Linked DNA regions of Homo sapiens. The protein of the gene in region 4 interacts with the protein of the main gene of each other region in a biochemical or structural test. Each region holds a gene or a part of one and is shown on either strand. Other genes may lie near its edges.

Region 1 (7,100 bases), on a different chromosome or scaffold from region 4:
CCAAAATGACTTGAACATACAACTATCTTTTGAAGACAACCTGACAAGATTAACATTCATCGTTGGAAATTGTTGGAAGTACCTCCACGTAACTCTGCATACCCTTGCAGGTCCACATCACTTTTATGTGGGCATGAAACTTTTTTTTTCTTTCTTTCTTTTTTTTTTTTTTTAATTTGAGATGGAGTCTTAACACTGTTGCCCGGGCTGGAGTGCAATGGCGTGATCTCAGCTCACTGCAACCTCCGCCTCCTGGGTTCAAGCAATTATCCTGCCTCAGCCTGCCAAGTAGCTGGGATTACAGGTGCCCGCCACCATGCCCGGCTAATTTTTTGTATTTTTAGTAGAGACAGGGTTTCACTATGTTGGCCAGGCTGGTCTTGAACTCCTGACCTCGTGATCCGCCCACCTCAGCCTCCCAAAGTGCTGGGATTACAGGCGTGAGCCTAGGCCTAGGGCATGAAACTTTCTTACCCTTGCAGGTCCACATCACTTTTATGTGGAGTCTTCATTAGGGCATGAAACTTTCTTTACAAAGTGGTGCTCCCAGTCACTGCTAGAAGTCCCTTATTCTTGTCTTGTTAGCCAGGATTAAAATAATGAAAGCCCATTTCATGAATATAATTAATATAAGCTACTATTCACTTTCTATATCCTCTTTTCTTTTCCAAGATTAAAACATCCAGAAGAGATTAAAACCAGATTTTCCCAAATCCTTCAAGTTTTCTATGTTCAATTTCAAAGTTGCCAGAGATATACACCAGGTTTATTATAGATATTCTCTGTTTATTCATTCCCTTGTCATTCAGCAAAAGTGAGCAGCAGTTGGAAAACTGTTAGATTTCAGGTGCCTACAATAGAAATTGCAATAACCAACTCCATGGGAATTTTCTGTTTGCGATGGGGAGGTCCAGTAGATACACGATTTTTTTCTTCTTGTTTTTCTTTATTCACTCTTTTGCATTCAGTAATATTTCACCGTCTTAAAAGTAATGTTAATTCTCTAGGGCATCTTTAGAATTCCTTCTCCTGTTTCCTTATCAATTATTTCCAACACCCTACATAAATCTTTCATACTATTGATAAATCATAGTCTAACAAGAAGTTATTCATACTTTTTTTAAAATTCCTGTAAGTCTCATAACTGATAAGTACTTTAAGCTCTTTCTCTCTAGAGCTCTCATCTAATCTCACATTGAAATGCCTTCTGCACACTGAGAAGATTTCTAAATGTATTTCTGACCCTCTTCTCTTTTCTGGATGCTGGACCCATATATCCAGCTCTAGATGCTATTTCTAAGTTGAATATCTAGCAGCATATCAAACTCAACATGGTCAAAGTAGAAATCTTATTTCTCCCTGAACTTGCTCACTCTCTATCTTCTGTGTCAATTATTGGCACCACCATCAGTCCAATTGCTCAGAAACTTGGGAGTCTTTTGTGACACCCTTGTTCTCTCACTCCTTGTAAATCTCTGACTCATTCAGCAAGAACTTCCGCCAACATAGAGCCTGCAGTTTCCCATTTCTTAGCATCTCTTCTACAACCATAGGAGTCTAACCCGTGTTTCTAGACTCAAAAACAGCAATAGTCTCCTACCCAGTGTCTCCACTTTTACTCTTTTCTCTTATATTCCACACAAAATCCAGAGTAATCTTTTAAAACATGCTAATTAATCTTATTATTCCCTGCTTTAAAACCTTCCAATGGGTTGGTAGTGCACTGAGAATTGAAATAAAAACACTTTACCATGGCTTTCAAGACTCCTGGTAACCTGGTTTCTATTAGCTCTCTGACCTCATCTCACGCACTTGCCCCTCTTTTCCTATGCCTTGAAAATGTTAAATATATTTCTGTGTTAGAGTCTTTGCACTCTCTGTTACCTATGCCTACAATGTTATTCCCCTAGTTCTTCTGAAGTCTACCCTTTCTATCATCCAGATTTTGGCTCAAATGTAAACTTCTCAGTGAAGTCTTCTCTCATTCCCAGTCCAGAGCAGTGCCCATTTCTTCATCCCTCCTCCCACAAGTCACTGTCTTCGCCATTGGGTTTAAAAAATTCATTGCAATTATGAATATTAGAAATAATATCATTTGTGGTTTTACTCCATCCCCCCTCCCCTTTTCACTGTGATCTTTTTAGGGCAAGGACCACCTGTCTTCACAGCTGTGCAACTGGTGCCAGTACAGTGCCTGGAACAGAGAAGTCCTCAACATGCAGTTGTGATATCTATAAAACATGAATGTCTTCAGCGCTCTTGAATCTCAAGTGAAACTAGCTTTTTGTAAGTCTCTTGTAAACTGACCAGCAAGCTTTTTTTTGATAATAGAAAACTGTGGAATATTAACTTTATTCTGATTTCAAAGAAAATGAAGTATAGTTTCGGACATTTAAAAGAAAAAAACCTCCTTCAGAATTCAGAAAGGCATTTCATCAAGAAAAATTCCACCATTTTCCTAGATTAGCTGAGTCTAGAACATTAGGAAAATTACCTACCTGTATCAGGGATGAAGAGGACCACCTCATAAGTAACTATGCAGGGAAAATGTAAACACAGGTAGACCTTATCAAACCATCACATTCAGAGAATAAATTCAAGTCTCTTCAATGCAGTTGTGCAGCCTTGCAGTGTTTGGGGCTCCATTACTGACCCTGGGAACACGGTTCTAAAGGAAGCTACCTTGCAATATCTTGGGCCACAACCAGAAGTTAAGACAATAAATAAATAAATAAATAAATAAATAAATAAATAAATAAAACAGAACAAAATAAGCTATACAAAATACAAAATGTTTGTTTAGGTATGTTTGTGTGTACTTACGCAGAGGAAGGGGAAAGTCTAGGGAAGTGGCGAAGAGAGAGGCAAAGCTGACTACATTATCTGCGTGGCCCATTGCAAAATACAAATGTGAGACTCCTTGATTAAAAATTATGAAGAAGAACAAAACAGCGACAGTAGACTATTGTCCCAGAATATTAAACCAAACACGGGTCTTATGAGCTGTGGCCTATACAACTGCATAGTCGCACACCCATGAAGCCCACCCTGGTTGGAGGGGAGAATTATAATTCATCTCCAGCGAATGTAAAGCAATCCCCACCCTGCCAAAACAACAGTAAAAATAAACGGCGATCCAAATTAGGGCAGGTTGTGCCCAATCCTGATGGCTGTGCTTGTGATGACGGTGGCGGTGCTGAGGTGGACTTGGGGGCACTGCTCCTATATAACAGACTTTAGATTGATAGAGGAGAAGGAAAATAGTTTCTGAAGCTCCAAAGTAGAAACTTCAGGCGCAAAGAATAAGGTAAAGGAAAGGAGACCGCATCAGACCTCCCTCCTGCCCTTGGGCAGTCAATGCCTTTTCTTTCCAAAGCGACCCTCTCCTTAGATCACTGTGTATATCCGGTGCCTTAGGAGCTGGGGTGGAGTACGTAGGTTTGGCTGTAAGGGCGCGTCAGAGCGACAAAAAGGGTAGAGACAAGTTTAAACCCCTTTCTGTGGAGTGGCTTCCTACCCTCTTTGGCCACAAACCCCAGGGCTCCCAGAGGGGCCTGGATGTAAGTGGGTTCCAGATGACCCATCCTCCCTTGACCCTCCGAAGGTAAGACCCAAGGGGAACCGCTGTGATCAGCATTCTTGAATTCCTCAAAAGTCACCTCACTTGTAGAAGTGCGTAGTCCTCCAGCATTTGGAAGAGGTGGCAGGGACCTTGGGGCCCGGGAAGTTCGCGACCCCAGGAAGCGGGTCTGAGGCGGTGCACCCCATCCACTCCGTCCGCAGTCGGGGCGGGGCAGCGGGACCCGAGAGGACGGGAATCCCTGCAGGGAGGGAAGGGCCGCGCCTGCCGAGGCGGCTCCGAGCCCCGCCACTCGGTCCTATCCCGGCTCGCGGAGGCTCAGGCCCCGGGAACTGCGGGCGGAGGGGGCGGCGACCGGGCACCCTGCGGCCACTGCGGCCGCTGCTCCTGCGACTCCCGCGCCCGCCGGGTGGTGGCTCCCCAGTGCCCGCCCCCAGCTCCCCTTCCCCGCCCCTCACGCCCCCTTCCCGCCCCGGCCCCCGCCCGGCGCTCGGGCCGCGCCGACCCGTCGCCCCGTCCTTCCGAGCGCGCCAGGCGGCAGATTCTTGGCGGCGGCGGCGCCTCCCCAGTGCCGGCGGCCCCGAGCCGGCTGCCGCGTTCCGGGCCTCAGAGTCCTCCCGCCTCGGCCATTTTCCCTCCTCCCCATCTCCTCCCCTTAGTCCCCTCCCCTCCCGATCCTCATCCCCTTGCCCTCCCCCAGCCCAGGGACTTTTCCGGAAAGTTTTTATTTTCCGTCTGGGCTCTCGGAGAAAGAAGCTCCTGGCTCAGCGGCTGCAAAACTTTCCTGCTGCCGCGCCGCCAGCCCCCGCCCTCCGCTGCCCGGCCCTGCGCCCCGCCGAGCGATGAGCGCCCCTCCGGTCCTGCGGCCGCCCAGTCCGCTGCTGCCCGTGGCGGCGGCAGCTGCCGCAGCGGCCGCCGCACTGGTCCCAGGGTCCGGGCCCGGGCCCGCGCCGTTCTTGGCTCCTGTCGCGGCCCCGGTCGGGGGCATCTCGTTCCATCTGCAGATCGGCCTGAGCCGTGAGCCGGTGCTGCTGCTGCAGGACTCGTCCGGGGACTACAGCCTGGCGCACGTCCGCGAGATGGCTTGCTCCATTGTCGACCAGAAGGTAAGTCGCCGCACCGCTGCCAGCCCGGCGCCTCCCCGCGGCGCAGGGGGCGCTGCCCGGCTGGCCCTCTCCGCGCCAACTTTCCGGCTCCCGGGGCTCGGCTGGCCGCCAGCCTCGCCGGCGCTCTGGAAGCGGCTGGCCCCGCCGCGGCTGGACGCCTGCAACCCGAGGCGCTGCGCTCGCTGTTGCTCATCCTCCTCTCGCCCCATCTTCCTCTATTCACCGATTTCTCTCCAGTCCGCCGCCTCCTCACCCATTTCCATCCTTCTCATGACATTTCCAGGTATCTTGCCCTTTCCTCGCCGCGCCCCTCCTTGTCCTTGAGACTTCCCAGTTTTCTTCCCCTCTCTCCCCTACGGACCCTGGACCAGCGCATTCCTGGTGCAGGAATCCTCCTTCCTGCACCAGAGTGCCCCCGGAATGACCTGGAGACAAGGAATTTCTCACCTGTCAGATAAGCTTTTAAGAGAGTGTGATTGACTCGGCCAGTTGTCAAAACAACTGACCAGGAGTGCAGGTACCCAAGGCCTTGTCATCTTTTAGTTCCACTTCTGTATGAGCATGGAAACACATTTTCCAACGACAAAACCTGAAAGTTGCGACCTTCCTATTTTTCATTCCCGGGATGCTGATAGTAGGACGTTGAAGTGGTGGGGGTGATGTCCAGGAACACCCCGAGGCTGGCTGTGTCCTTAAGTTTGAGGCTGTGGGGCTCTGGACAGCGGCCACTGAAGGCAGGTTAGAAGGGTCATTATCCGGGGCCAGGCCACCCCCAGAGGAGACTCAGCCCACCCACCACTGTTTACAGTAGCAATTTGGATTTTCAGGTTGCCTCTGGAGCCATCCAGATGGATGTTGCATGGAAGGGGGTGATACAGACGTGAGGCAGAGGGGGCCATGGCGCCAGTCTTCTTAGTGTAAACAGCCAGCGTTTCAGGAGTGGAGACAGAGGTCTCTAAAGGTGCTGAATTTTTCAGCCCTGGAGGACTGGCTAGCACTCCTTTTGCTTTCTAATTATCACTTGAATAATCATGAATTGCTTTCTTTAAATTATTTGTAACAGAGTTTGCTAAATCTTAAGGGTTGTGAATTGCAGCACTGAGCACAGGAATGTTAAAAGCTCCAGGTGGAAAAAAATCACTGATCTAGAAAGTTGTGAAAGTTCTAGACTAAGGTAACAATGAGTGCCAGGAATTTATTTATGGAAATTTACTTTTATATTACGGGTAATGTCAACTGTTTGCAACTTCCAAGAAAATGACACGTTTTGTCTAATGCTGATGTAAGTCATATCATGCTCCTTTTCCACATCAGTATTGTGGAATGTCTATTGTGGGTCAGCAGGAGCACTCCTAGGCACTGTGAAAGCCTTGTATACAATCCTCTCCATTTGGATGCAGACCAGTTAATGAAACAGCAATGCTTCATAAGCACGTATACAATGTAAAACAAAATTTCTCAAAAAGCAAAGGTAATTCTGTACAATTTTAACTTTTCTAAATTCTAAAGCAAGTGAAGTAGTGTCAGAGAATATTCAAATTGGGTCAAAGTAATATTGATAGACTTTGTTTTGACCAGCTTGAATTCTCCCTCCACCCCGCCCCCCACTTCCTCCTGGAGTTCAGAATGGGGAGACTGATGCCTAGTTCAAGAGGTTTGGTAGTGGGATTTTAAATGGAGGGTGAATTCCAGGTGTCTCAGAAGCTACCAAGGGGCGTGTTACATGGAGAGAGTGAGACGAGAGCAGAGGGAGAGGGACAGCAAGCACCTATGGAATGCAGCAGGCCTGCAGGTGGTGGCCTGGGTATTTAAGGGAAGTACAGTTATGAAAAGGCCTTGAATTAAACTCAAATTGCTAGAAGCCTCAGTAATCTTTTCATAGCGACATCATACCAAGGACATCTGAAAGATGGATTTGCTGTATGGAGGTTTTAGAATGCCAAAAATGTTATGGCAGAAAGAGCACCGAAGTTCAGTCATGAGCTAGTTGGAACATGAGTCAAGACTTGGGGGAGAGACTGGGAGAAATACTGGAAAGGGAAAATCATCAGCCCTGATTGGTGACTGATTTATAAGGGGAATCCTTTCCTTTTGTATTTATTCTAGTAGTTTCTTCTCTCTCTCAAAGAAGTTTGAAAAGTTTGACTGTTTGGAATAGTTAAGGTAAAGATCTCACTTTTTTTTTAGGTTATAAAAAAGTTGGGGTTAGATTTATAGATGTGAACTTGAGGGTTATTTATATACAGAATACTGTAAATAAATATATACTGGATAGTGTTTCTGGACAGAGGACTTTTTCAATTTCTCTGTCATTTGTCATCTCTTTCAGAATATATTATTATCCCAGCAGAAACAAAATTAAGAGAGCTGAAGGTCCATCACAGGATACAGGATCTCTGTGTGTTGTGACAGTA
Region 2 (7,028 bases), about 12 Mb from region 4:
ATTGATGGTTGTTTTGCATTTCACCTAGTAGCTTATTCAATGGTTTGTTTTTCTGCTAAATGTTAACCGTCAAAACTTGAATTAATTTCTTAATTGCTATTTCTACTTCAGGAATCTTAAGAAAGATGGCTTAACCCAGTCAGAAGGGACAAGCATAATTTTCTTCCATGGCTATTTAAGTAAGTATTAGGAGAGCTTTCACGACCATGCTATAGCTTCCTAGTGACGCAGAATTGGTAAGACTTGTGTGATATATACATGTGTGACTTGTTACATATCATAGCAACTGTGTAGTGGGAAGGATGTAAACAGTTTCTCCTTGCAGTTGACCATCATTAGAAGAATCACTGCATTCCAGTGTCTGATGAGCTTCCTAGTCCTCAGGAAAATGTTAAGTTCTGGTCCCATCCAAAAAGCACACCAAGAAGAACAAAACAAAACAAAACAAAACAAGAAAAACAAAAAATGAAAAAAACCCCTCTAAATAAACTCCTTGTTAACTGTTCCCTGCCACAGCACACACAAAAGTTTATAAAAATATTGAAAGGATAGTCTCACAAAAAAAGCGAAGTCTGAGTTTACAGACTGAGTATCAAGTACATGCAAAAAAGCTTTCATTTCACCCGTATATAAATGGTCTAGAGAAAGATACATGAGAAAAAAGTACTGACTACATAACACAGTCTTTGTGGCACTTAACTAGGGGTAGGGGAGGAGGAAATAAATAGTTCATAGTTAGTTAGTTAGGGTCAATTCTCTGTCCCATAGTCCAAACATGGAGATCCCACAGTGTCCCAAGGCAGTAAACATCCAGGTATCTTTCCAGATAACTTCCTGAGAGTCAGAGCTTTCTTCAGAGTTTCTCGTCTTGCCCCTTCCAAAAGCCAACATTATTGCCTTCAGTTTCCGCAGCCTGAAGTCAGCCATCCTGAAACACAAATTGGAACCTATTGCATGGCTGGATCTCATATAACAAAATAAGAGTGTTCCTAGAAAGCAGTTTTTCAGATGACTTTGAGGGAACATCTGAAATGATCAGTACCTTGTAGTCTCAGGATTTAGTGGGAATTAGGAGATCATGTAGGTAGCTGGGTGCAGTGGCTCACACCTATAATCCCAGAGCTTTGGGAGGCTGAGGTGGGAGGATCACTTGAGGCCAGGAGTTCAAGACCAGCCTGGTAAATATAGCAAGACCCCGTCTCTACAAAAAAATAAATAAAAACCAGCTGGGTATGGTGGCATATGCCTGCAGTCCCAGCTACTTGGGAGGCTGAGATGGGAGGATCACTTGAGCCCAGGAGTTCGAGGCTGTGGTGAGCTATGACTGTACCACTGCAGTCCTGCCAGGGGGACAGTGAGATCTTGTCTCAGAAAAAAAAAAAAAAAAAAGAGAGAGAGATCATGTAGTTCACCCAGCATATGAACTCTTAAAGACTCCAATATGGAGTCCAACTAGGATGTTGACCTTAAAGGGTGTACCACAAATCATTAGTCCCTTGAAATGGTCCTTGTTAAAAGGTTTCCCTCTTAGAAATCCACAGTGTAAATTAGTGCAAGAGGGCACTGAGAAAATCTGTAAATCTACATATGTATATGTACATATGTATGACTATGTATATTACATATATTCATAAACATATTCCATTTTATTTAGTCAGCATTTCCCAACCCTTTTATGATAAGTATTTGTTGACTAAATTTAATTTAGTAGAAGATAAAGGAAAACAAAAGAAGAAGTTTAAAGGAAATACATGTATTCTTACTGCCAAGAGAGTAATCTTGAACTGTTCTGACATGTAGTGGTCATTGGGGAGATGACATACACTGCCACAGAAAATGTTCGTACCCTTATATTTTAAAATGAGCGTAAATCCTGGAACTCCGTTGGAGGAAATACACAGATTACAAACACACGTACCTTTTCTGTGTTCTAAAGTCTTTAACTACAGGACTCACAAACATCATCTGATACTAAATAATAAATGTGTAGGTCAGTGCTCCTAATGCCATTTATTGGTCTTGCCTGGCAGAAAAAAAAAAAATCTTAAATTTGCAAACTCCTTTGTCTACATATTCAACCGCTGGGTATAATTTTGTCATTTTTTTTCCCTTCTTCCTTATTCCCTAAACAGAGCAAACATCTCATTTGTTACTGATTTGAATGGTACTGGAACTGTATACCATATATATGCATTTCATATAAGAGCATACGTCCTTCATTAATTAGCACAGATGAAATTAAATACTCGTGGTCAGTGAACCATCCCTGTGCTTTAAGAGATAAAAACACAGCTGGGCGCGATGGCTTACGTCTGTAATCCTAGCACTTTGGGAGTTTGAGGCAGGTAGAATACCTGAGGTCAGGAGTTTGGGACCAGCCTGGCCAGCATGGTGAAACCCTGTCTCTATTGAAAATGCAAAAATCAGCCGGGCATGGTGGCACATGCCTGCAGTCCCAGCTACTTGGGAGGCTGAGGCAGGAGAATCGCTTGAACCTGGGAGGCAGAGGTTGCAGTGAGCTAAGATTGTGCCACTGCACTCCACCCTGGGTGACAGAGTGAGACTCCGTCTCAAAGAAAAAAAAAAAAGAAAGAAAAGAGATAAGAACACAGAAAGGATAAGAGAGCATTTGAATATAAAAGTTCAATTTCCAGGAAACAAAATTAAATTTTTTTAAAAACCCAGATACTTGTTTATATTTCCTTATAGAGATTAATGATCAGGATATCTTACCTATTTGATTGTCTTACACCCAACAGGCTGTGAATTTCTCCTAACTCAGAAGCACAGTTTTTAAGTAACTTGAACTGTGAGAGGCCAATAGTAATGAGCTCATGGCCAATTTCACTATTTGTTAAACAAAAGCAGGTTCTCCTCTGAATTCAGAGATGCCCACAAGGTGGGCGCCATCCTGAGCACTCTGGTAGGCGTCCTACCATCTACCTGGAGAAGCTCTTTTTCTGACATTCCAGGGGCAGCTACAGCACCCACGGAAACAGCCTCTGCAGGCTGAGTTAGTGTATGGGGTGACTAGACAGGGAATCCAGAAAATCTTCTTGCACAATGATTCTTTGCTTTTTTGGATCACATACCCCCCAGGAGAATCTGTTTGTTTAATGCATGGACTCCTCTTCCCAGAAGTGACCATATGTCCATGTATATTTTACACGGAGTATAAAGTACTGTCATGAACACCCTAAAGCCATTAAATAGACCTCGGGTTAAGAGCTGTTGACACCTAATCATGATCTTTCTCTTATTCTCGTTTATATTCCCAGCTTGAACTGTGCTAGGCCAGTAAAAGAAGTAGGGGGATAGGACTGATACAGTTGTCAAGATGATCAGTGGGGGAAATGTTAAAAATAAAGTGGGCATTGCAAATCTATAGAGACAGAAAATAAATTAGTTGGCTGGGGTGAGTTGGGGGAGAATGACTGCTCGTGGGTGTAGGATTTCTTTTTGGAATAATGAAAATGTTCTAAAATTAGATTGTAGTGATGGTTGCACAACTTTGTGAGTATACTAAAAGCATACTGAAAGTATACTAAATTGCATACTTTTAAATGGGTCAGTTTCATGGCATATGAATTACATCTCAAAGCTGTTTTTAAAAGTGGATGTTATAGAAACAAAAAAAGTGTTTCAGCAGAAACTTACAATAAACCTTGTATGACCAGAGATAATGGGTGGCCTCCTTATGCACTGCCTTCAGTGAGGAAGGAACTAGGGGAATTTCTGGCTAAAGGTCACTGGAGTTTTTCTCATCATGGGAAATGTATGGAGACGTGTGTTTAGGTCTCCTGAAGAGTGGAATGTGGAGGACCACCCATAAGACTAAAGAGCACTGGCTTGATCCAGTAGGATCTCTGCCTAACCCAATATTCTGTTTATGAGAACAATTCGACAGGGTGGCAATGGCTGTCCTCCATGACATTGCTTTAAATGTTAGGAATATCATGCCAATTTTCTCAAATCCTTTCTCTTAATACACTATAGACTGTTAACTAATAAATTTATCTAACTCCATCTTGAATCAATTTCTGTGTCAGCATACTCTAACAAATTCCATCTGCATCCTACTTTGCTTTGCATGATTTTGCTCATGCGGAGGCAGAGCCTGGTTTAGAGATCCTCAAGGGCCTCGTATCTCTGATTCTCACCACCCCCTTTTCCATGATGCTGTCAAAAGCTTCTTTTGAGCAGAATGAAAAGTTTCCAATTCTCCTTTATCTAAAAGTCTTTTGCTTCTACTGCCTTTCTTGAGTCTGGGCCCTGGTTCTAGCTTGGAAAACCAAGCTGATCTGTATCGTGTACTGGTATTTTGGATATATAGTCATGGGTTTCTGGGGCATCATTTCAGTACGCACACATGACAGCCTTCAATAGGTTTCAGAACTTGATCTCGTTCAATTTTTTTAAATCATGATACTGAGATCCATAAAGAAGAAACATATGTCCAGGGTCACATAGCTAGGCAGTGGCAAGACTAAAAGTGATACATGTCTTCATTCCCAACCATTCTGCTTTCAGAACTACCAGGCTGCCCCCCAGACCCTCTGTAACGCTCATCTCAGCACTTTCAGCCTCCTTCTTCTGGTTTTCTTTGTGGGTTGACCTAGCACTTACCTCACCATCCTGTCTGGTCTCTTCTCCTTCATCCTGGTCAAGTTCAAACTCCGTGCCCCGGTCTACAACATCCACACCAGCATGCACCCTGGGCTTCTCATTTTCCCATTTGGCAAAGCCTTTGTCCTTTGCTGCTTTGTCATGGAACTTGGATTTCATTTTAGGGAAGGTGTGGGACCCCGAGTCCCCCCAGCCAGCCTCTGACCAGACAGGTTCAGTCTGGGTGGCCTGGCTGGTGGTGGCCCTCTGTAGCCTCACAGAGATCTTGCGAGAAGAGCCTGTAACCAGTGTGATGGCTCTGCTGTCTAAATCCCTGTGTCCAGCAGTGACTCCAGGGAACTCAAACACCTCATCCTGCGCTGGAAGTGAAAAAGGGTGGTGATTATTTGACATCTGACTGCTTGACAGCAAAGCATCAAGGTTAGTGCAAACAGCACGAGTCTGGCATGCAACATTCTAGAGGAACCGACAAGGGACAGAACTCAATTAGCCGCAGGCAAGTTACATATTCCTGAGACTAGAAAGCAGAGAGAAGCAAGGATGATTCAAGGGTTTAGCTACTGCTGCTCACCCTAAAGAAGGCCTTAGCGTTTAGAGTGACTGACCGGGTTTAGACCCAGAACCTAAATGAGGTCCAAGTGTGAGGAGGCAAGCAGAAAGAGACCATGGCAGCAAAGAAAGCAGAGGGCATTACCTGGGGGCAGCGAGGGGCTTCCAGGCAGTGACCCATGACCACTGCTCAAGGAGGGCGCCCGGGCAAATCTCCTGCAGGCCAGAACCAGGAGGTCTTTGCACTGTTTGTGACAATTGGCTCCACAGTCTGAAAAATTCCAAGGGTGTCGCAGATGATTAGTGTGTCTGATGTTGATTCAGTTTCCAGGGTGGCACTTGATTTGTCAGCCCTCCCCTCCCCCACCCCAGTTTCTGTGTTGAATTTCAGAGTTGAGCTCAGGCCCATGGGGTGTGTCTAGGATCTGGAAAGAGGCCATTGGTCTGCACTTGCCTTCCTGAGGTTCCGAAAATTCTCTTAGATTTGCTCAGCTTGGTTCTGTATGCAATTGAGGACCTAATGAGCAATTGTGCCTAGGGAGTAAATAGAGTCCAGCCTGAGAGGTCAGTTGCCTTTGCCCAAAACTAAATGCAAATCAAATGGGGTTGAGAGTCTTTCCCAGGCTTAGACGGAATCCCCACAAAGAGAGCCTATGCCAGCATTAGGGCAAGAAGCCTCAGCTTCTAGTCTCTCCCAGGCCAACTGCCTCTGATCATTTACTGTGAGGTGTTCCTCCACTCAGCACTTGTCTGGATTTTTTTTTTTTTTTTCGAGATGGAGTCTCGCTCTATTGCCCAGGCTGGAGTGCAGTGGCGGGATCTCGGCTCACTGCAAGCTCCGCCTCCCGGGTTCACACCATTCTCCTGCCTCAGCCTCCCGAGTAGCTGGGACTACAGGTGCCCGCCACCACACCTGGCTAATTTTTTGTATTTTTTAGTAGAGACGGGGTTTCACCATGTTAGCCAGGATGGTCTCGATCTCCTGACCTCGTGATCCACCCACCTCAGCCTCCCAAAGTGCTGGGATTACAGGCGTGAGCCACCGTGCCCGGCCTTGTCTGGATTTTTTTACTCTTCTTCATTTTCCAAAACCTTTCAGGGCCAGTGATTATATCTTCTGCTTCCAACAGAACACAAGATGGGCATATGCTCAGTAAATATGTTCTATATTTGCTTATGGCTTTGAAACAGCGTGCAGCAGAGTCTGTGAATTGCCCATTAGGATGTTTTAGATAAGACAGTAGAATGTTAATTACTACTTGGGGTAGAAAAATGTGGCCACTTCAGATGGTGGTTCACAATTATTTCCTATGATGAGGGTCCTGCACTTCACTGAGAATCATTGAATAGAGATGATCATTTCTCTCCTACCATCAAGGAGGACCTTTCTAACTATTTCCAGTACCCATTTTCCCCTAAGTGACCTTGTTTCAAATAGTCTTAATGATGTATTCAATCTATTTCAATTCATTTTTTTTTTCACTTTATGTGCCATTAAGAAAATACAAGAGATAATCCAAAGGTGTAATAGATTTTCATCTTTATAAAATTGCGTGTGTGTGTGTGTGTGTGTGTGTGTGTGTGTGTGTGTATTTTAGGGTATGAGGATAGAAACCAGAATAAAACTAATGACTCACTGCTGGGCAATAAGATCTTGCAGTATCTTTGCTGCTTGAAAGTAAAAATCTAAGTTAGACCAAGGCAAGTGATAGAGAAGCACTAATGGGAAGGTCCCTCTGAGCACTAAACAGTGGCTTCCATTGAGATTTGGGAAGCTTTTTGTTCATGCAAAATGAGGACGAAATACTGGAAAACGACTGGAGAAAAAAGGCATCCCTGGGGAACAACATTCA
Region 3 (5,859 bases), on a different chromosome or scaffold from region 4:
AGAAGAAACTAATATAGGTATCTGGAGTAAAAGGAACAAGGGTTAGCAGATTTTAACAAGGGGAGATGAGGAAAGAATAGTAGGTATGTTGTGATATTGTAAACATCATAGAGGGGGAAAAAAATCTTTGTTAAAAAATGTTCTGTGAGTTACCAGGAGAGTTAAAAAAAAAAAACCTTCAAAAAAAGTTGAAATTAATTGTGTAGCAAATTAGAAATCTATCAAGCAAATGAAAACATACCAACTTCGATTTCTCATCTGTAATAGGGGGATAATACCAGACTCGTAGGGTTTTTGAGATAATTAAATGAAATGATGCATGTAAAATATTAGCTTAATGACTAGCACATAATAACGAATCATATATACATTTTAACTTTTGAGGAGGAAACAAAGAGTAATTTTTTTTTGTTTGAGATGGAGTCTTACTCTGTTGCCCAGGCTGGAGTGCAGTGGTGTGATCTAGGCTCATTGCAACCTCCGCCTCCCGGGTTCAAGTGATTCTCCTGCCTCAGCCTCCCTAGTAGCTAGGTTTACAAGTGCACACTGCCACACCCAGCTAATTTTTGTATTTTTAGTAGAGACGGGGTTTCGCCACGTTGGCCAGGCTGGTCTCGAACTCCTGACCTCAGGTGATCCACCCACCTCGGCCTCCCAAAGTGCTGGGATTACAGGCGTGAGCCACCACACCTGGCCTATTTTTAACCAGTATTATTGTTAACATAATCTGACCTTTTGGAAAAGTGAAGAAGAGGGAAATGCTATACCTACTTCATTATGCCGAAGGCTAAGCTATATCTAGAATAGTTAGATATTTTTTGCTGCTCCTAAGACGCAGCAGCTCTGTTCACCTTAATTTGAAATTGTTTTCGTAGGTTTCATTTCCCCACTCCCCATGCACATATTTTCCTAGAACAGTTATTTGACTTTATCTATACAACCATTTAAAAATTACAATCTCTGATTGCTTCTTTGCCTAATGGTATGTACATCCAATGCAAGATATCATGGTTTTCCCAAACATCAACTCTTCTCTCTTATCCATTCCACCAGTATTGTACATTCACCTGACTGACACAGCTCCAAGGGGTCACTTGTACACCCTGCATGAATTAACTCCATTGATGTTGTCTGCTCCCGTTGTAGCTAATGGCACTGACTCAGCCTTCCATGTGCTTGCTAAGCCAGCCCATACTGCTCTAGCACCCGTAGCAATGCCTGTGCGTGAAACCAACCCTTGGGCCCATGCCCCTGATGCTGCTAACAAGGAAATTGCAGCCACATGTTCGGGTAAGGTGGCCACAGATGGTGTTGAGGATTCTGGGATCAGATAAGTGACCCTGGTTCTAAAACTCAGCCAGTTAGCTGAGTGGGAACTAGGGAGGAATCCTTTCAGGAAAACTATGTTCCCTCCTAGAAATAAGTTGCTTACATAAGAAAGGATGGTGAAGGAGAACAAAAGAGATCAGACTGATAGTCATTAGGACTGTGGAACAGGACTGTGGAACAGAGCCCCACCCATAGAGCTTTTATAAAATACAGATTCCGGCTGGGTGTGTTGGCACATGCCTGTAATCCCAGCACTTTGGGAGGCTGAGGTGGGTGGATCACGAGGTCAGGAGATGGAGACCATCCTGGCCAACATGGTGAAACCATCTCTACTAAAAATACAAAAATTAGCCAGGCGCGGTGGCATGCGCATATAGTCCCAGCTACTCAGGAGGCCGAGGCAGGAGAATCGCTTGAACCTGGGAGACAGAGTTTGCCGTGAGCCAAGATTGCGCCACTGCACTCCAGCCTGGGCAACAGAGCAATACTCTGTCTCAAAAAAAAAAAAAAAAAAAAAAAAGATTCCAGGGCCCCACCTCAGAGAATCCATCACCGGATTTGGTGATGTGCAGACATTCCTGTAGAAAGAGGGGGCCCTGCTCCTACAATAGGAGGCCTACAAAAAGTGCTAGAAAAAGCACTTCATTTTTGCTTTTTTGTACTTTCTAGTTTTGTATAAAAAACATCTATTAATTATAAAACCAAAAAGTTTTTTTTTTTTGGAGGTGGAGTATTGTTCTGTCACCCAGGCTGGAATGCAGTGGCATGATCTTGGCTCACTGCAACCTCCATCTCTCAGGTTCAAGCAACTCTCCTGCCTCAGCCTCCCGAGTAGCTGGGACTACAGGTGCATGCCACCATGCCCAACCAATTTTTGTATTTTTAGTAGAAATGGGGTGTCACCATGTTGGCCAGGCTGTTTTCGAACTCCTGACCTCGTGATCCACCCGCCTTGGCCTCCAAAAGTGCCGGGATTACAGGTGTGAGCCACCACACCCGGCCTCAAAAGGTTTTAACATAGTAATAAAGGCAGTTCACCAAAAAGACAACATATTTCTGGAAGCCAGGCAGAGGCCAGCAAGATATGGCCAGGTCACTGGTTATTTTCTTTTTGCTCTGTTAGAGCAGAAGATGAATTGCCTTGGGCCCTTTAGAGGATGTGCAAGCTAGGTGTTTTTTTTTTTTTTTTTTTTTTTGAGACGGAGTCTCGCTGTGTCACTAGGCTGGAGTATCTTGGTTCACTGCACCCTCTGCCTCTCAGGTTCAAGCAACTCTCTTGCCTCAGCCTCCCGAGTAGCTGGGACTACAGATGCATACCACCACGCCCAGCTAATTTTTGTATTTTTAGTAGAGACGGGGTTTCACCATGTTGGCCAGGATAGTCTCGATCTCTTGACCTCAGGTGATCTGCCCACCTCGGCCTCCCAAAGTGCTGGGATTACAGGCATAAGCCACTGCACGTGGCCTTTTTTTTTTTTTAAGACAGAATTCTCACTGTGTTGCCCAGGCCAGAGTGCAGTGGCACAGTCATAGCTCACTGCAGCCTCCAGCTCTTGGGCTCAAGTAGTCCTCCTGCCTCAGCCTCACAAGTAGCTGGGATTACAGGTGTGAGCTACCACAACCAGCTAGTTTCTGTATTGTGGATGAGCCATAGCAACAGCGAGGGGTTTCTGACATCAGTCAGCTGCCGTGGTTTAATGCATTTGAGCCATATCTAGACAGTGCTTCAGTGTGGCTGACACAGCAGCATGGTCTTGACAAGTTTTCTTCATCCTACCACAAAATCCCAGTTGGTAATAGAGACTTTACTCCTACCTATCAAAACCACAAAATGTCCCATTAGGGGGGGACATGTTGTACATGTTAGGATCATTCAAATAACCAAGATTATAAGGTGAGGAAAGATGCCCCTAACTGATTCTTTTGTCTCTCATCTTGTTGGTTCCAGGGACCGAGTGGGGTCAATCTTCTGGTGCTGCCTCTCCAGGTCTCTTCCAGGCCGGTCATAGACGTACTCCCTCTGAGGCCGACCGATGGTTAGAAGAGGTGTCTAAGAGCGTCCGGGCTCAGCAGCCCCAGGCCTCAGCTGCTCCTCTGCAGCCAGTTCTCCAGCCTCCTCCACCCACTGCCATCTCCCAGCCAGCATCACCTTTCCAAGGGAATGCATTCCTCACCTCTCAGCCTGTGCCAGTGGGTGTGGTCCCAGCCCTGCAACCAGCCTTTGTCCCTGCCCAGTCCTATCCTGTGGCCAATGGAATGCCCTATCCAGCCCCTAATGTGCCTGTGGTGGGCATCACTCCCTCCCAGATGGTGGCCAACGTATTTGGCACTGCAGGCCACCCTCAGGCTGCCCATCCCCATCAGTCACCCAGCCTGGTCAGGCAGCAGACATTCCCTCACTACGAGGCAAGCAGTGCTACCACCAGTCCCTTCTTTAAGCCTCCTGCTCAGCACCTCAACGGTTCTGCAGCTTTCAATGGTGTAGATGATGGCAGGTTGGCCTCAGCAGACAGGCATACAGAGGTTCCTACAGGCACCTGCCCAGTGGATCCTTTTGAAGCCCAGTGGGCTGCATTAGAAAATAAGTCCAAGCAGCGTACTAATCCCTCCCCTACCAACCCTTTCTCCAGTGACTTACAGAAGACGTTTGAAATTGAACTTTAAGCAATCATTATGGCTATGTATCTTGTCCATACCAGACAGGGAGCAGGGGGTAGCGGTCAAAGGAGCAAAACAGACTTTGTCTCCTGATTAGTACTCTTTTCACTAATCCCAAAGGTCCCAAGGAACAAGTCCAGGCCCAGAGTACTGTGAGGGGTGATTTTGAAAGACATGGGAAAAAGCATTCCTAGAGAAAAGCTGCCTTGCAATTAGGCTAAAGAAGTCAAGGAAATGTTGCTTTCTGTACTCCCTCTTCCCTTACCCCCTTACAAATCTCTGGCAACAGAGAGGCAAAGTATCTGAACAAGAATCTATATTCCAAGCACATTTACTGAAATGTAAAACACAACAGGAAGCAAAGCAATCTCCCTTTGTTTTTCAGGCCATTCACCTGCCTCCTGTCAGTAGTGGCCTGTATTAGAGATCAAGAAGAGTGGTTTGTGCTCAGGCTGGGGAACAGAGAGGCACGCTATGCTGCCAGAATTCCCAGGAGGGCATATCAGCAACTGCCCAGCAGAGCTATATTTTGGGGGAGAAGTTGAGCTTCCATTTTGAGTAACAGAATAAATATTATATATATCAAAAGCCAAAATCTTTATTTTTATGCATTTAGAATATTTTAAATAGTTCTCAGATATTAAGAAGTTGTATGAGTTGTAAGTAATCTTGCCAAAGGTAAAGGGGCTAGTTGTAAGAAATTGTACATAAGATTGATTTATCATTGATGCCTACTGAAATAAAAAGAGGAAAGGCTGGAAGCTGCAGACAGGATCCCTAGCTTGTTTTCTGTCAGTCATTCATTGTAAGTAGCACATTGCAACAACAATCATGCTTATGACCAATACAGTCACTAGGTTGTAGTTTTTTTTAAATAAAGGAAAAGCAGTATTGTCCTGGTTTTAAACCTATGATGGAATTCTAATGTCATTATTTTAATGGAATCAATCGAAATATGCTCTATAGAGAATATATCTTTTATATATTGCTGCAGTTTCCTTATGTTAATCCTTTAACACTAAGGTAACATGACATAATCATACCATAGAAGGGAACACAGGTTACCATATTGGTTTGTAATATGGGTCTTGGTGGGTTTTGTTTTATCCTTTAAATTTTGTTCCCATGAGTTTTGTGGGGATGGGGATTCTGGTTTTATTAGCTTTGTGTGTGTCCTCTTCCCCCAAACCCCCTTTTGGTGAGAACATCCCCTTGACAGTTGCAGCCTCTTGACCTCGGATAACAATAAGAGAGCTCATCTCATTTTTACTTTTGAACGTTGGCCTTACAATCAAATGTAAGTTATATATATTTGTACTGATGAAAATTTATAATCTGCTTTAACAAAAATAAATGTTCATGGTAGAAGCTTTTGCCCATGAAGGGCTGTTCTTTCCCCTTTCCTTTATTAGTAAATGAATTTATTTTTCGTTCTTTTGGTCTTACTCTCCATTCTACTGCTGCTGTAAATCCCTAGTTTAGTGACTAGAAAAATACCCTTAAGATTCATATTTTCATTCATACTTTAATCCTGAGTGTATCTCTAAAGTCAGATTCTTGCTGCTCAAAGTGTGGTCTGTAACAGCAGCATGGACTTCACCTAGGAGCTGGTTAGAAATGCAGAATCTCAGCGGGGTGGGGCAGTGCTTCTCAACCTGGGCTATGCAATAGAATCACCTGAGGATATCTTTTTAAAATCCTAACGCCTGGCCTATATTCCAGACCAATTAAATCAAAATTTTAGTGGGGCAGGGGGACCCCCCAGGTTGTGTTTTTTTTTTTTAAGCTCGCAATATGGTAAAGTTGAGAACCACTGGCCTAGAATGAGTTTTACCTCTAATCTTAGCCCACTATTCTGTGACTGGTTCTATT
Region 4 (7,580 bases):
AATGGCATCCTAGTGAGTAGGGCTCACAGTCACAGGCCCTGAGGAATAGGGGCACCAGGCCATCTCCTTCTGCATCCATCAGCAAGCTCGATAGGGCTGCCTCTGATCCCTCCACCTCTTTGCAGGTATTAAGTGAAGCTTGGCCTGAGTCACTGCAACAGAATATAGAGCAGAGATGGGGCCAGAATTCGGAGCTGAGATGGGGCCAAAATAAGAAGACATGGCAGGGCAGACAAAAGCCCACCACAGGAGTATAGGTGTGGGGCAAAGTTTGAAGTGGGGCTCAGGGTCGGGTGGGGGCTAGGCTGGGGCAGGACCAGCGGAGCTCTAGAAGGTTTCTGTGTCATTATACTGCTGCGCGTTCCATCCCATGGCCCAGGTGGTTGGATTCTGTTCAGCGGAGCATGTGTGGAATGTATGATAGACCCTGACCAGGCAGACCTTTGCAGAAGCCCATTAACATTCTATAAATGGCAACAACCAGCACAGCAACAGGGACATGAATATTAACGCGCTAGTCTACGGTTCTGGCTCCCCCTTCCCCGCTTCCTCCAGCTGATCTAAACAGTATCCACAGACAGTTTCAATTTTGATTATACAGAGTGTAAATCATCTTCAGACTTGGATCTTCTCTTTGTCTAATACCCTGTTTTGAGGTGAGCCTTCTGGAGGAAAATTACAGAAGAGAAAAATATTTATCCATCACAAAATCGCCTTTGTAAAGTATTAACTCTAGTTATGCTGCTTGCCCGCTGGAATGTTTGGTGTCTCTCCAGGAAAAAGTTGAGACCCATCTGCAGGCCCTCTGAGGTCTTAACTATCAGGTTCCTACTTACTTCATCTCCTGTTACTACCTGCCACAAGTGGGGCACACCTGGCCGCTTACCTGAAGAGTCATGGCTTTCCTACCTGTACACATTATACTTTTTGCAGCCAGTACCCTTCCCTTCCCTCTTTGCTGCTGGAAGAACTCCTGTTGGAAAGCCTAGACTCAGCTCAAAGGATTCTGCTGGTTGATGCCTTCCCAGGCTCCCCAGGCAAAGGGGTGATCCTTCTTCTGTGCCACTCCCATCCATAGACCTATTGCAACACTGATCGCCCTGTCCTGGCCACATCTGTTGTTCTATTCTTTTCTCATAAGCCTTAATTTTGAAAGGAGAAAGGCTCCATTTTGGTCATCTTTGTTAAATTATTGTATCATTTTCTTCCTTCTCACAAAGATTATGAAATAACTAGGCCATAGTTGGAATCCAAAGGTCATTTTACTCAATGTATATGCTAACCACTGTCTTATCCTTTGGGATTGGAGACAGGGGCTGAGGGAAGGATGAAGCTGGCAATAATTTCCTATTGGAATTTTACCGTCTAAGCCCCCTCCTTGGGATTTTCTTTTCACATGAAACCTGGAGCAGGGGGTTATTTTGGACCTGGCATCTCCATGATGTCCCTGGGGAATTCAACTTTTCATTTGGCCAAGTTTGAGAGTAGGAAGGCGAGAGATTTATTTAGAAATAAGGAGGTAATAAGGGCAGGAAACTAGCAGTGTTTGCATGCAGACTACCAGCATTCTCCCTTTTTATGTAAACATTAATCCAATACAAAACATGTATTTTGTTTGACAAAGTCTTTTATTACCCTTGCTCCAAAAGAGTTGCTGTAATGGAAAGGAGACAAGCATTGGTCGCCCTTGAGAATTGCAGTCTGGTGATTTACACGGAGTAACAGTCTGCTGAGCCAGCATGCTAGGAAATGGTGCTGGAAGTTTGTAGGTTGTTTTAAGACAGTCACTGAGATGGTAACAGACCCTATTTAATATATTTGGGGGCTGGGCATGGTGGCTCCTGCCTGTACAAGACTTACCCAAAGCAAGTAATGAGAACATATGAAGCACCAATTAGTCAAGGATCCCTAACTCCATGAAATCCTTGACTTTCCAGACTTCCCAACAGGATCAGGACTAGGGTGAGATGAGTGACGCACTCGGCTCAGGTACAAAATTTAACAGGTGCCAATAAACTCAGTAGTATAAATATTTTAGTGCAATATTTAAAATTATTTAAAATGTGGATATTGTGTCCATTCTGGATTCTCACATTTTTATTTTTAAAAAATTGTATTAAATCTTTATCTTGATTACGTTTATTGGTACCCTTTACATTTTGCCTCTGAAAAGTATCTCACTCATCTCACTTTGGTGCTGGCTCTGCTTCCCAAATGCATTTTCAGAAGATCAAGCCATATTTGCCACTGCCTTCCATCACATGCCCTGGAAAGGGGGAAAGAGGCTTCATGAGAATAGCAGAGTGGAAGGAAGAAGCAAAAGGGAAAAAAGTAATAATCAAAGAAATAAAAATTAAACAGCAATGAGATACCCCTGCTTGTGCTTTGTCAAACGGACATATTTTAAGATATCGTATCTCCAGCTGGGGGAGTGACAGGGTAAGACAACCATTGAAATCCTGGCTTTTTACATCGGAGCTACCTAGATCATACGGAAGACTGAATCTTAGCACCATCTCTACCCAGCTGCCCTGTTCAACAGGGCAGGCTGCGAGAAATTACTGTATTAGGAAGCTCCAGAGCGGTTGCAGGCAAAGGCTTTGCCTGTTCTTAGGAGATGGCCCTAGAACTTTTCGGATCATTTTTGGGACGTGTTTGCTGCACTTGATATCCTGTTTTTCCAGGGGACTGCCTCCTTCCTCGCCTTTAAGCCTTTTTAGGCTTTTAAGCCGCAGGCAATGATAACCTTTACCCACTGAGGAAAAAGTGATCGGGAGGCGCGTTTTAAATTTTGGTTTACACTAACCAGACCCGCCAGATGAACACTCAGCTTACCACAATACCTACAAATTCCCAGACTTGACTTGGCAGAAGGGCGAGGGCGGAGGTTTTCTTTCCCCATTTGCATAATCCCCAGCTCCCCGGCAGCGGAGCCGACCTCTTCACCGCCGCCGTCTTCGCGGGTGTCCCAGCTGGGCCGCGCCCCGGGGCCCAGCGCTCCGGCCCTGCCCTCCCAGGTTCCCAGTCTCGGGCGCGGGGCAGTCCCTCGCCGGCCGCCGGCCCGGTCCCGGCTCCCAGCCGAGGAAATTTTTCCCCAGCAGCCCAGGGCTCTCCTCACGTGACCAGCCGCGGCGGTAGCTTCCAGCGAGAGTTTAAAGGTTACGGAGGAAATTAGCAAGGACACAGCCACTCGCCCCCCGGAGGGCGCGCCCCATTTTCCCGCAGCCCGGACGGCGGCTGTCAGCGCGCTGATCAGTGCCGAAGTCCCCCAAAGGGGCACCGATAAGGACCAGCGCAAACAGGAACAGTCACTTTGCAAAAAATAAGCAGACCACAAACCAAGCCGGGGCTCTACCGAGCTTTCACTTGTCAACAAGTTCTCGCAGCCTGCGAAGTCCAGGACAGATCCCAAAGGGGAGAATGTCCCCAAAGAAAGGCAAGAGAGAAGAACAGAGTTTAAAACTTCACCCGAGCCATGCTTGTCCCTCCCCCTTCCCCCTCCCCCACCGCCGTGGATCACAGCGTCCCGGGACAGAGTGACAGATGGGCCAGAACTCCGCAGACTGCTCCTGCCCGCCGCGGCCCGAGTGGGGGTGGGCAAGGGAAGGGTCCCGAGGCCTCTAGGGCAACAGGGCCCCCTCCACTCCCCCATCCCCGGCTCTAAAAGACAGTGTTGGCCGCAGGGTCCCCGAGAGATACGCGGCCCGGCGGGGCCCATCCATGGCCATCCACGGCCCCCGGCACGCGCATCCAGCCCAGCGCCGCCGCACCCCGGGGTCCCGCGCGGGGTCCCCGCCCCCCGGCTGACCCGCCCGCCGCTGCGACCCCGGGCAGCCTCGCCAGCTCTCCACCGTTGTCTCCTCGGCTCACTTTTTCCGTATTGCTCCCCCAACCGGCAAAACTTTCTATTTCCCCAAACACTGCCGTGCGCGCGCGCGCGTGCACACACACACACTCACACACACACACTCACACACACTGACGTCTTTTGCGCATTTCCTGCATTAGAGGGAGGGAGACTCGCTCGCACACCGACAGAGGGAGAGGAGACCGCGGGGGAGCGCGGGCTGGCGGGCGGCGAGCGAGCGGCAGCCGAGAGCGGGGACGCGGGGAGCGCGGAGGGCGGGCGCCGGCGCCCAGGAGGTGGGGCCGCGCTGAGTCGCAGTCCCTGCCCCGCCGCCGCGCTGCGCACCGCCCGGTGCTGGCCTGCGCCCCCGAGCCGGATCGGCGGCCGCCCGGACTCCGAGCCCGCGCGGATGTGAGATTCCGGGCTCCTGGCGCCTCCCGATCGCCGGCTCCGGCGCGGCGCTGCTTCGCCCAGGAGGCGGCGGCCCCGGCTGGCCGTGGGGCTTGTGGATTTTTAAAAATTTGGCTCCGAGGAGGACCATTTCCTCTCGACATGCATCCCTCCGGATAGACTGAACATCCCTCCGTTCACCCCCCCGCCCCGCGCGGTCAGAGGCAGGCGCTGAGTGTGCGAAGAGGATCCGGGTTGAAATCTGCGCCCCCGGTTCTCGTCCCCGCCCCGTCCCACCGCCCCATCCCCCTCCCGGAGTCGAAATTTCCCGGGATTATGTTTCGGAAAGGTAGGTAAGCGCCGGGCGCGGCGCCCGCTTTCCCGCAGTCCGGAGCCGGAGAGCCAGCGAGGCGGCGAGGCAGCCCCCGCGGCTTGCAGCGGAGCCGACAGCTCGTCTTCTCTTCTGGAGGTGCAGCTGGTGGTCGGGGGGAGAGACTTGCTCCAAACACGGACATCCCCCAGCTCTCCCCCCTCCCTGTTTTCCGTTAGGAACCCGGCGAGGAAATACATGCACTGGCTGAGAATCGCCCGCGCCAGGGCGCAACGCCACAAGGTGTAGGGAGTGTGCGGGGTGGGGCGAAAGGGGACCCAAGAGTCCCTGTGGCTCGGAGTGCCGGGCCGTCGGTTCTTCATTCCTGCCCTCGGGGCAGACGGAGTGACCCCGGCCCCCACTCCCCGCCCCGACCATGGTAGTGTTCAATGGCCTTCTTAAGATCAAAATCTGCGAGGCCGTGAGCTTGAAGCCCACAGCCTGGTCGCTGCGCCATGCGGTGGGACCCCGGCCGCAGACTTTCCTTCTCGACCCCTACATTGCCCTCAATGTGGACGACTCGCGCATCGGCCAAACGGCCACCAAGCAGAAGACCAACAGCCCGGCCTGGCACGACGAGTTCGTCACCGATGTGTGCAACGGACGCAAGATCGAGCTGGCTGTCTTTCACGATGCCCCCATAGGCTACGACGACTTCGTGGCCAACTGCACCATCCAGTTTGAGGAGCTGCTGCAGAACGGGAGCCGCCACTTCGAGGACTGGGTGAGTGCGGCGCCTCCCCGTCATTCCGGGAACCCGGTTGTGGGGTCCCGGGGAAAGACTCGCTGGTCTTGATCGTAGGGCTCCGGGACTTATTGACGACTGGGGTGTGTGTGCCTGTAAGTCTCAGTTTCCTTGGGGAGGTACACTTCACTTCATAGTTGGGGAGAAACAGGCATTGGCGAGGAAGATGAGACTTGGAAAGAGGATGTGGCCCTCTGCTCCCTCTGTGCCCTCCAGTTGGTGGGTGCTGCGGGAGGTTTGCAAACTGGGAGAGCCTGGGCCACTGGTGCTGAAGGTTGGCCGAGGACCCGGCTTTCTTCCGCAGGCGCGTGGTGGGCTGGCTGTGTGTGATTGTGTGTGGGTGGGTCCCTCCGTCCTTGGAAAGGCACGTGGAGCCTTTGACTGAAGGCTTCTTGCACGTCCTGGCTTTGTCCTGCTTAGCCGAGCGAGGAGTTGCTTTATTTTTCCCTCCGAGAGGAAGCTGGCTTGTTTCTATTCTCTTGCATGGTGGTTAGCTCATCTTCTGACATACAAGTAGAAAAAATGTGTTCTCCTCCAGGATGTCTCCTCTATGGTCCCAGAAACATCAGTCGAGCTTGTTTTGTCCAATTCATTGCCCATCCATGCAGAATGAATGTTGCATTTTAAGAAGGGTTCTGCTTGTGGGTAATTGGAAGTCAGTGCTTTGAATCTTATTTAAAGTTATATTGTTTCTCTGTTTTGATTGTCAAGATACTGTGCAATAAAAGACGATTTCTAAGTATGAGATTGAGTTGTTAATTGATTCCATTATTAAACTATTAAGGATTTGGAAAGAGGTCTTGTCTCAATCTACTATAAACCAAATGCATCCAGTCTTGGCACTTGGACAAGCAGAGAGAAGCAAACCTTCATTTTGCTTTTTGTGTTTGTTTTTGGGTTGTTTTTTTTTTTTTTTTTTTTTTTTTCTCTCTTCTTGGAAGGAAGGTATTAATTTAGGATGTGGATTTTTGTGTTTTCAGGTTTGTTACATGTTTCCAGCAAGTACAAGCGTTCCTCTGGAGGTATATGTTTTCAGGGTTCTTTGGTCTACACAAAAAGTGAGAGAGCTATCTAAGCCTCAAAAGTGGTGTAGAGCAATTGCTTTCTATTGAAAACCAGCTAACTTCATGAATGTCCTAGAGGTCAGAGGTTGCACATGGATCACTTTGGCATATCACCTTACATATTTTTTTCAAGGACACGGAGTTTTAGGGAAAAATAAGAGAGAGCCTGTTGTTTTTGTGCTCATGGCTGTGATGTAGTCTGCCTGAAACCATGGTTACGGTTTCACAGGGAAGCTCCAACAAGCCACATGCGTAGAACTCTAGATTTGTGGTTTGCACTTTGGAAAGCAGGCAAACCTTTATGGAATCCCAGAGAACTCCATGCCATTCTATTCTACTTCACAGATGTCCCTCATCTCTGCTTCCTTCAGCCCCCACAACAGAGCTCCCACTCATTCCCCATTTCTTTTCCATGCATGGCCTTTGGGCCCTTTCCTCATGAATGCAGTGCATATGAGAGGGGGAGTGGAAGGGATAACTAATTTCAGAGGTAGACCTTGACTCTGAAAACCTGTGATTTTGGAGTTGTTGTTTTTGGACAGGAAGGGGGTGGAAAAAACTTGACGCTGGTAGCTAGGAGATGGGAGCCTTTTGCAGTGTATGCAGATGAGGGGCTTGGACAGTGGGGCAGAGAGCAGGGATGAGGAGCAGCAGGTCTGCATTTATCCATAGAACAGATGTTGGTTGGAGGGAGAGTGTCTTTGTATCTCTGGTGATGCTTCACTGGGGCACACCCCAAACTCTGGGAGCTTCAGGACACTGTCCCCACCTTCATCCCTCCTAGTGAAGCATGCAGTGGGAACTTGTTTGGTTATCATCCTCTAAGGTTCTCAAATTCATGTTGGATTTGGCCCTAGGCCAGATCATCTAGTGCACAGGCAAGTTTTACAGATGAGGACATTGAGTTCCAGAGAAGCTAGTTGGGGACCGAGGGTCACATGACAAGCAAAGGTGGGTTGGAAGTAGGGCCCTCACCGCCTGTTGCCCATGGCTTGTCTGATGGGGAGCCGAGCCTGCCCATCTGGCCTCCCAGCCTATTCTCCCTGCAGATCCATGTGCTGTGTCCCTGACATTTTTATTGTACTTGATAACTTCATCTCTTTTGCCTTATAGCAACTGTGAATTAGGTATGGCAGGTATTGGACAAACTAAAAAACTTGAGAT

The links.
Region 1: of the proteins of PRKCE (region 4) and PRKD1, one has a biochemical effect on the other in vitro, tested with the Homo sapiens proteins (one study listed by IntAct).
Region 2: of the proteins of PRKCE (region 4) and RASGRP3, one has a biochemical effect on the other in vitro, tested with the Homo sapiens proteins (one study listed by BioGRID).
Region 3: of the proteins of PRKCE (region 4) and NUMB, one has a biochemical effect on the other in vitro, tested with the Homo sapiens proteins (one study listed by BioGRID).

What each region holds. Positions count from the first base shown.
Region 1 is NC_000014.9:29,924,835-29,931,934, reverse strand, and holds the start of PRKD1 (serine/threonine-protein kinase D1), read left to right. Parts: upstream 1-4,087; 5' UTR 4,088-4,422; coding exon 4,423-4,686; intron 4,687-4,838; exon of another isoform or gene 4,839-4,969; intron 4,970-7,100.
Region 2 is NC_000002.12:33,556,629-33,563,656, reverse strand, and holds part of RASGRP3 (ras guanyl-releasing protein 3), read right to left. Parts: intron 5,447-7,028; coding exon 5,321-5,446; intron 4,986-5,320; coding exon 4,627-4,985; intron 929-4,626; coding exon 920-928; 3' UTR 1-919. UniProt on the Homo sapiens protein: Guanine nucleotide exchange factor (GEF) for Ras and Rap1.
Region 3 is NC_000014.9:73,274,712-73,280,570, reverse strand, and holds the end of NUMB (protein numb homolog), read left to right. Parts: intron 1-1,146; coding exon 1,147-1,290; intron 1,291-3,277; coding exon 3,278-3,993; 3' UTR 3,994-5,355; downstream 5,356-5,859. UniProt on the Homo sapiens protein: Regulates clathrin-mediated receptor endocytosis. Plays a role in the process of neurogenesis.
Region 4 is NC_000002.12:45,647,118-45,654,697, forward strand, and holds the start of PRKCE (protein kinase C epsilon type), read left to right. Parts: upstream 1-4,557; 5' UTR 4,558-4,983; coding exon 4,984-5,331; intron 5,332-7,580.